Linked DNA regions of Homo sapiens. The protein of the gene in region 1 purifies or fractionates together with the protein of each later gene. This does not show direct contact. Each region holds a gene or a part of one and is shown in the gene's direction. Other genes may lie near its edges. The genes, in order: OSR2 and TLE3.

The links.
Region 2: the proteins of OSR2 (region 1) and TLE3 purify together in Homo sapiens (affinity purification with mass spectrometry; one large-scale study listed by BioGRID and IntAct). This does not show direct contact.

What each region holds. Positions count from the first base shown.
Region 1 is NC_000008.11:98,947,137-98,950,027, forward strand, and holds part of OSR2 (protein odd-skipped-related 2), read left to right. Parts: intron 1-1,036; coding exon of another isoform or gene 1,037-1,285; intron 1,286-1,380; exon of another isoform or gene 1,381-1,550; intron 1,551-1,702; coding exon of another isoform or gene 1,703-1,816; coding exon 1,817-2,472; intron 2,473-2,891. UniProt on the Homo sapiens protein: May be involved in the development of the mandibular molar tooth germ at the bud stage.
Region 2 is NC_000015.10:70,087,653-70,091,464, reverse strand, and holds part of TLE3 (transducin-like enhancer protein 3), read left to right. Parts: intron 1-3,812. UniProt on the Homo sapiens protein: Transcriptional corepressor that binds to a number of transcription factors. Inhibits the transcriptional activation mediated by CTNNB1 and TCF family members in Wnt signaling.

The sequences.
Region 1 (2,891 bases):
TGGTCTGACTGAGACCCTCTGACTGTTACCCACCTCTCATTAACTCTTAGCCTGAACTCCCAGACCGCATACCACCAAGCAGAAGCGATTCGTTAATAAATCTCTGTCCCGAGCCCTTCCAGAGGAAGGTGTGGGCCCCGCAGAGGCAGCCAGATCCTGCCTTGCCAGAGCGCTCTGTCATTAGCGTAGCCCCCTAAGTCTGCTCACAGATGGAACCATAGGCAATACTTCATAACGCGCTGGAGAGGACAAGTCAGACGCAGGAAGGGGTTGGGTGGGAAGGGAAGGCTGGAGTCTCTCCTGCCTTCCTGCTGGGTTCAAATGCCAGGCTTGGCGGTTGGTGGCACAGACTGGGAAACGTGACTCCTACACCTGGGGGTCTGCCCTCAGAGGGAAGGCCCTGGTCCCCCGAACTGGCAGAACTCCTTTCTAAAAAGGGGCTGGTAGTGGGAGAAGGTGGGCCCGCTGTGAATGTAGGTGAGGTGATCCCGGGAACCTGGGTCTGAAATCAGACCTGTGTTGCCATTGGGAGCACGGAGAGAGGGGAAGCGCCCTGCTTAGGCCCAGGCCGGGCGTCCTGGTGGTGGGACCGCAGCCGCACTCACCTCCAGGCCAACGGACAAGGTTCCTGCAAGCCAGCAGGGCCACTCTGTGCTTGGCCTACTGCAGCTCCCCTGCAGCTCCTTTCCTCTCCCTCCCCGGAGCGCTCTCCTCTCTCCTCTCCCCTCTCTTCTCTCTCCTCTCTCGTCTCCTGGGGCATCCCGGGTGGAGGGATGTAGGGGTCGCTCCTCGGTGCCAGGCCGGGAAGCAGCTCAGGCCTCCCAAGAGCTTGGCGCTCAGTCTGGGAAAAGGGGTTCCTCTGGCCTCAGGGACGTTCTCCGCCCCCACCCCACCCCCTGGGAGCCTGAACCATCTGGAAGGGATCTTAGTCGGGGGTTGGGAGGAGAGCCCGTGGATAGGAGGAGGGGGCGATTCTAGGCCGAATCCAGCCCCTGAGGTGTCACTTTTCTTTCCTGCGGCCCGTCACCGCTGATAGATGGGGCTGAGGGCAGAGGAAGGAAAAAGAAAACCTCCGAGGTCAGTGCGGGGCGAGGTGAGCCCCTCCCAGGGCCCTCTGGCCCAGGAGGATGAAGCGCGCCGGCTTCGCTCTTGCACGCCGGCTTGCCATCCGGGTAAGCGCGGGAAAGGCGGCCACAGGGCGCGGCGGCAGCGCAGCGCGTGGGATCTCACGACCCATCCGTTAACCCACCGTTCCCAGGAGCTCCGAGGCGCAGCGGCGACAGAGGTTCGCCCCGGCCTGCTAGCATTGGCATTGCGGTTGACTGAGCTTCGCCTAACAGGCTTGGGGAGGGTGGGCTGGGCTGGGCTGGGCTGGGCTGGGTGCTGCCCGGCTGTCCGCCTTTCGTTTTCCTGGGACCGAGGAGTCTTCCGCTCCGTATCTGCCTAGAGTCTGAATCCGACTTTCTTTCCTTTGGGCACGCGCTCGCCAGTGGAGCACTTCTTGTTCTGGCCCCGGGCTGATCTGCACGCGGACTTGAGCAGGTGCCAAGGTGCCACGCAGTCCCCTCACGGCTTTCGGGGGGTCTTGGAGTCGGGTGGGGAGGGAGACTTAGGTGTGGTAACCTGCGCAGGTGCCAAAGGGCAGAAGGAGCAGCCTTGGATTATAGTCACGGTCTCTCCCTCTCTTCCCTGCCATTTTTAGGGCTTTCTCTACGTGCTGTTGTCTCACTGGGTTTTTGTCGGAGCCCCACGCCCTCCGGCCTCTGATTCCTGGAAGAAAGGGTTGGTCCCCTCAGCACCCCCAGCATCCCGGAAAATGGGGAGCAAGGCTCTGCCAGCGCCCATCCCGCTCCACCCGTCGCTGCAGCTCACCAATTACTCCTTCCTGCAGGCCGTGAACACCTTCCCGGCCACGGTGGACCACCTGCAGGGCCTGTACGGTCTCAGCGCGGTACAGACCATGCACATGAACCACTGGACGCTGGGGTATCCCAATGTGCACGAGATCACCCGCTCCACCATCACGGAGATGGCGGCGGCGCAGGGCCTCGTGGACGCGCGCTTCCCCTTCCCGGCCCTGCCTTTTACCACCCACCTATTCCACCCCAAGCAGGGGGCCATTGCCCACGTCCTCCCAGCCCTGCACAAGGACCGGCCCCGTTTTGACTTTGCCAATTTGGCGGTGGCTGCCACGCAAGAGGATCCGCCTAAGATGGGAGACCTGAGCAAGCTGAGCCCAGGACTGGGTAGCCCCATCTCGGGCCTCAGTAAATTGACTCCGGACAGAAAGCCCTCTCGAGGAAGGTTGCCCTCCAAAACGAAAAAAGAGTTTATCTGCAAGTTTTGCGGCAGACACTTTACCAAATCCTACAATTTGCTCATCCATGAGAGGACCCACACGGACGAGAGGCCGTACACGTGTGACATCTGCCACAAGGCCTTCCGGAGGCAAGATCACCTGCGGGATCACAGGTGAGGCGGGCAAGGAGGATGGCTGGGAGAGGGAAAGCGAATTTGTCCTGGACACACCGAGTCCTGATAGACATTCCCAGTGTCATTATAATCCCCTGTGATCTAAAATACACCCTCAGTCACGCTCCTCAGCCCGGTTCAGCTAATTCCCAACATCTACCCTTTCTTTCCCCCAGCGGCTCTTGCTACGTTCTTGTTTGGAATGAGGGAGGGCCTTTCCTCAGTCTTGGACAGGAACAATCTGTTGGCCTTAGTCCTGGGATGGTTATCCTGTCTCCTCCCGGTGCTGTGGGGAGTGGTGCAGGCAGAACCCAGGTACCCTGGGGTGCCGGTCCTGGCTGCAGTCGGGCTACTTCTGTTGGGTTTCGTCCCTCCCCCCACCCCCCACCCTCCACCCAGGTGCGCCCCAGAGCCTGCCG
Region 2 (3,812 bases), on another chromosome or scaffold:
TGATGACTGACCGGCTCATCACTTGCCATCTTGTTTGTGCAGAGGCTTTCCAGTGTCAGCCACAAATAACAAAGCCAGCTTAAAACCAGGGGCCCCAGAGCAATTGCCATGCATTGGATTTGAGGCACTGGCTCTCTGAGAAGCTGGGTCAGGCAGCCTTTTCACCCACTGTTGGTGAGCACTGACATTTTTGAAAGTGGACTTGAGCCATTTTGATTTTGGGGCAGTGTCGTGCCGACACAATACAGTCACCTTTTTCTGTGAACTGAACAACCTTTCCTGTAAGTTTCTCTTTGAATCTTGGAACTGGAAGAGCCCTTTGGCTTCTCATGCAAACTTTTCAAGTTACAGATGAGGAAACGGTGGCCCAGAGAAGGGAAGCTTATGTACTCAGTCATACAGTCCCACGTTAGTGGTAAAGCTGCTACTGCTGCTTCCCTTCCAACCCAGGACTCTTTTCTGTAAGACTCAAGAAATGAAGAGTGCTCCTTTTCTAGTGTATTCTGTGTCTTTAATTACTATTGCTTCTTTCTGTGTTATTATCCAAACAGGCTAAGGCTACAAAACTGGCCCCACCAAAGTCCAAAGTGCCCCATTTCGGGTTGTATAATCATATCACTGAACCCTTATTGTCCACAGTCCTGTTTTGAATTGCCAGCTATTTGCACAACTAATGATTTGATGTGTGTAATAATAATACATAATGCATAACTAGCAATCCCAGAGGAAAGATTCACAGACCGGGAAAGGTGGTATATATAACCTGTGAACTTTTTACCCTAGCCATGGGGTGCCATAAACACAGGGCTGAGGTAGGAAATGGAAAATCCCCATTTGTCACTCCCCTCCCCTCCCCGCTCTGGATCTTCTCATCTAAATGATAAGGGGCTCACCTGGAAGATCTTGAGGCACACAGAAGTTTTGTGACCACGGTGAAGGTGCAAGGTACAGGTGGCCAGAGGGAGCTACCAGGCAATGAGGTTACAAAGGACTCTGCCAAGGAGTTGAGCCTATCTTGATAGGAGAATGTGGGACCACTTGCAAAGTAGAAGGGGTCAAAGGTCCTTAGACTAGGGAAGTGCCTATTTGTGTGGCATCTGAGTTGAGCTGTGAAATTTTTTTTTTCTTTTTTGCCAGAGTGCTAGCATCCAAGAACCCTCCCACCCGGCCCCATGCCCTGGTATCTGTCTTGACTTTTCCTGCTATATTGATCTTCCCTGGAACAGACTGTAATCACGAGTCCTCTCACTGAGTGGGTGCCTGCCTCGCTCAGCTTTGGGGTCTGCTGGGCTCCAAGCTCCCTGCATGCTGTCTAGCTAGAGGGAGGTTGCCCCACCCCTCAAGACTGCCTTTGGACCCCTTTTCTCTAGTTGCCAGTGGGAGTGGTAGAGTGGGGGTTTCAGTGCTTTTGGGGTCTTTTCCTTCTTGTGCATTTGTCATTGAAATGACCCTGGGAGATGAGCAAATGGCCCCTTGTCCTTACTTTACAGATCAACGGGTGGGAACCTGGCTCCTAATTCGGGACTCATTCTCTGAACTCTCTTGGACCAGGAGCCCGTGGCAGACACGGAGTTCTTCCTTTCCTTGAACTCCTCCTTCCCACCTAGGCTGTTTGTTTCCATTTTGTTGAAGGAGTGAGTCAGTCAAGGAATAAATCTCCTTTTGCTTTCTACGTGGGAGAATGTCATTCTGTCTCATTGTTTGTACAAAATACTGGGACACCAGGGGCAAAAACGTGACAAAGACCTAAGCTTGGCAGTGTTTTCCCCTGTGATCTGGCACTCATTCCTCGTCTCATTTTTGTAGGTATGAAGGAAGCCCCTCTGCTGAGGTCTCTATAGCACTTAGTATGTAATAGGTGCTCAGTAAACATCTTGGTTTTTCTTCAAAATTTACTCAGGTTATCTGAGAGTAGAGTTCCGATTCCCTGAGCCCTGTGAGTAGGAAGTGGGGATTTTAGTTGTGGGCTGGCCGCCCGCTCTGCAGGCTTCCTCCTATGGCCCAGCATCCAGTTTCTTCATCAGTGAAATGAGGGGGTTGGATTCATTCCCAAAGCAGTTATTAGGGGACTGGGATGTGCTGGGTGTGGGCTGGGGTTGGTTACACAGCCGAATAAGACACCATTCCCTCTGCGGGGGAGTCGGATGTCTAAAGAAGTAATTGCAATGCAGTGAGGTAAGTGCTAATGTGGCCCAAGTGTCATAGGAGGAGCACCCAGCACAGAACAGCTTATTCTTCTTGGGTGAGAGCAGACTTCACTGAGGGCTTTGCTTGGCGCGAGTCTGAAAGGGAGGGTAGGGTTTATGAGGCAGAAGTCGGCAGCCGAGGCCCCTCCAGGGTGGCAACAGCTCGCGGCAAGGCAGTGAGATATGTTCTAGAAGCCACACGTCTTCGGAATGATGTGGGGCGGGGACTGCACTTGGGAAGTGAGGCGAGGTGGTGACATTTTGCAGCAGAGCGATCTCCAAGGCCCCTCTGCCCTTGCAGTCGCGGCTCCCCACCCGGTGGCTCCCTGCATCCCTGCATGGCTGGCTCTCCAGGGCTGGCCTGAGTCCATCTGCCGCGGGGTGGGGGTGGGGGCGGGGGCGGGGGCCCGCTCTGGGCCGTTTGTGGCCTGCTCTGCCTGCTTTCCTACCGTAATATGCTGCTTTGAACTTTATTCCCCAAAGTGGCATTGTCTCCTTTCTCATATTGGTAATTCTGTAATGACTGGTTATGACCCGCCCCCTCCCCCATATTTAATTCTCATCAGCCCAGCTCTCCACTTTGCTATTAATGATAGCAGCCAGCAAAATAGCTTTCAACATGCCATTGACAGTCTGGTTTAAGAGAGCACTTGAAGTAGTGCTAGACAGCTGAAAGCACCCATAATTGTGTACCAGAGTGAGAACTGCGTGCTCAAGGGCCTTGTTTTTATATGCTTAAAGGGACAATATCTTGTTTTCAACAAATGCTCTCTGAGACTCACAGCCAAGATGCTTTCTTCCTTTTTCCTTTTCCTTTCTTCTTTTGGCTTTCTCTTCTCCTTCAAAATACATATTTAAAAAAAATTCTTTATAAAATAATTGTTCCCTTCAAGTTGGGGTTAAGGAGAAACTTAAGGAAGGGGGAAACGTCCTGCCGCCATGTAAGCGGGGAATATTTGGTGGGTTTGTTGTTTTGAAGCATCGTCCTTTGCAGGCAGCAAGCTGTGGGTCAGCCTTGCCCTACTGAGGGTCCTTAGGACCTTGCGTTTCTCAAGGAGGTAATGGGAGAGTCTGAATTCGCATCAGCATTGATTTTGAATTCTTTTCTTTGCTAAGGATGTTGCACAATCAGTGGGCTGCAGAGCTGTCACTGTGAATGTTTAGGCAGAGGCCACCTTTTGGGGGAGGGCTGGAGGAGAGGGGTCACCGTGTTGGAGAGTCAGGCCATGACCGCTAAGGAATCAGATTCTAGGAGGCTGTTTGCTGCAGAGTTGATGGCCCAAGAGGCCCGTCTGGAAATCAACAGGGTGGGTGGGGCAAGGACTTGTATTCTTAAGTACAGGTTCACACCAGGCTTGGAGGGTTAACCAGGGGGCCCGGCTAGTCCACCCGGCAGATTTTATCTGAGAACAAATACTTTTCTCCCCTTCACACCAGCCGACTTCATTATTGCTTTGAAAATGCAGTCCTTTGGAAGAGGTTTCCTTTGCCTCTCTGTCACCAAAGCCTCCCATTGCCAATGTGTCCTGTGAAGGGAGAAGAGAGAAGCAACTTCCCATCTGTGGGGCCTGAGAGGCCAGGGAAACCCTGTTGGGGCCTGAAGTCTATGTTGTCCTGTTCTCTCCC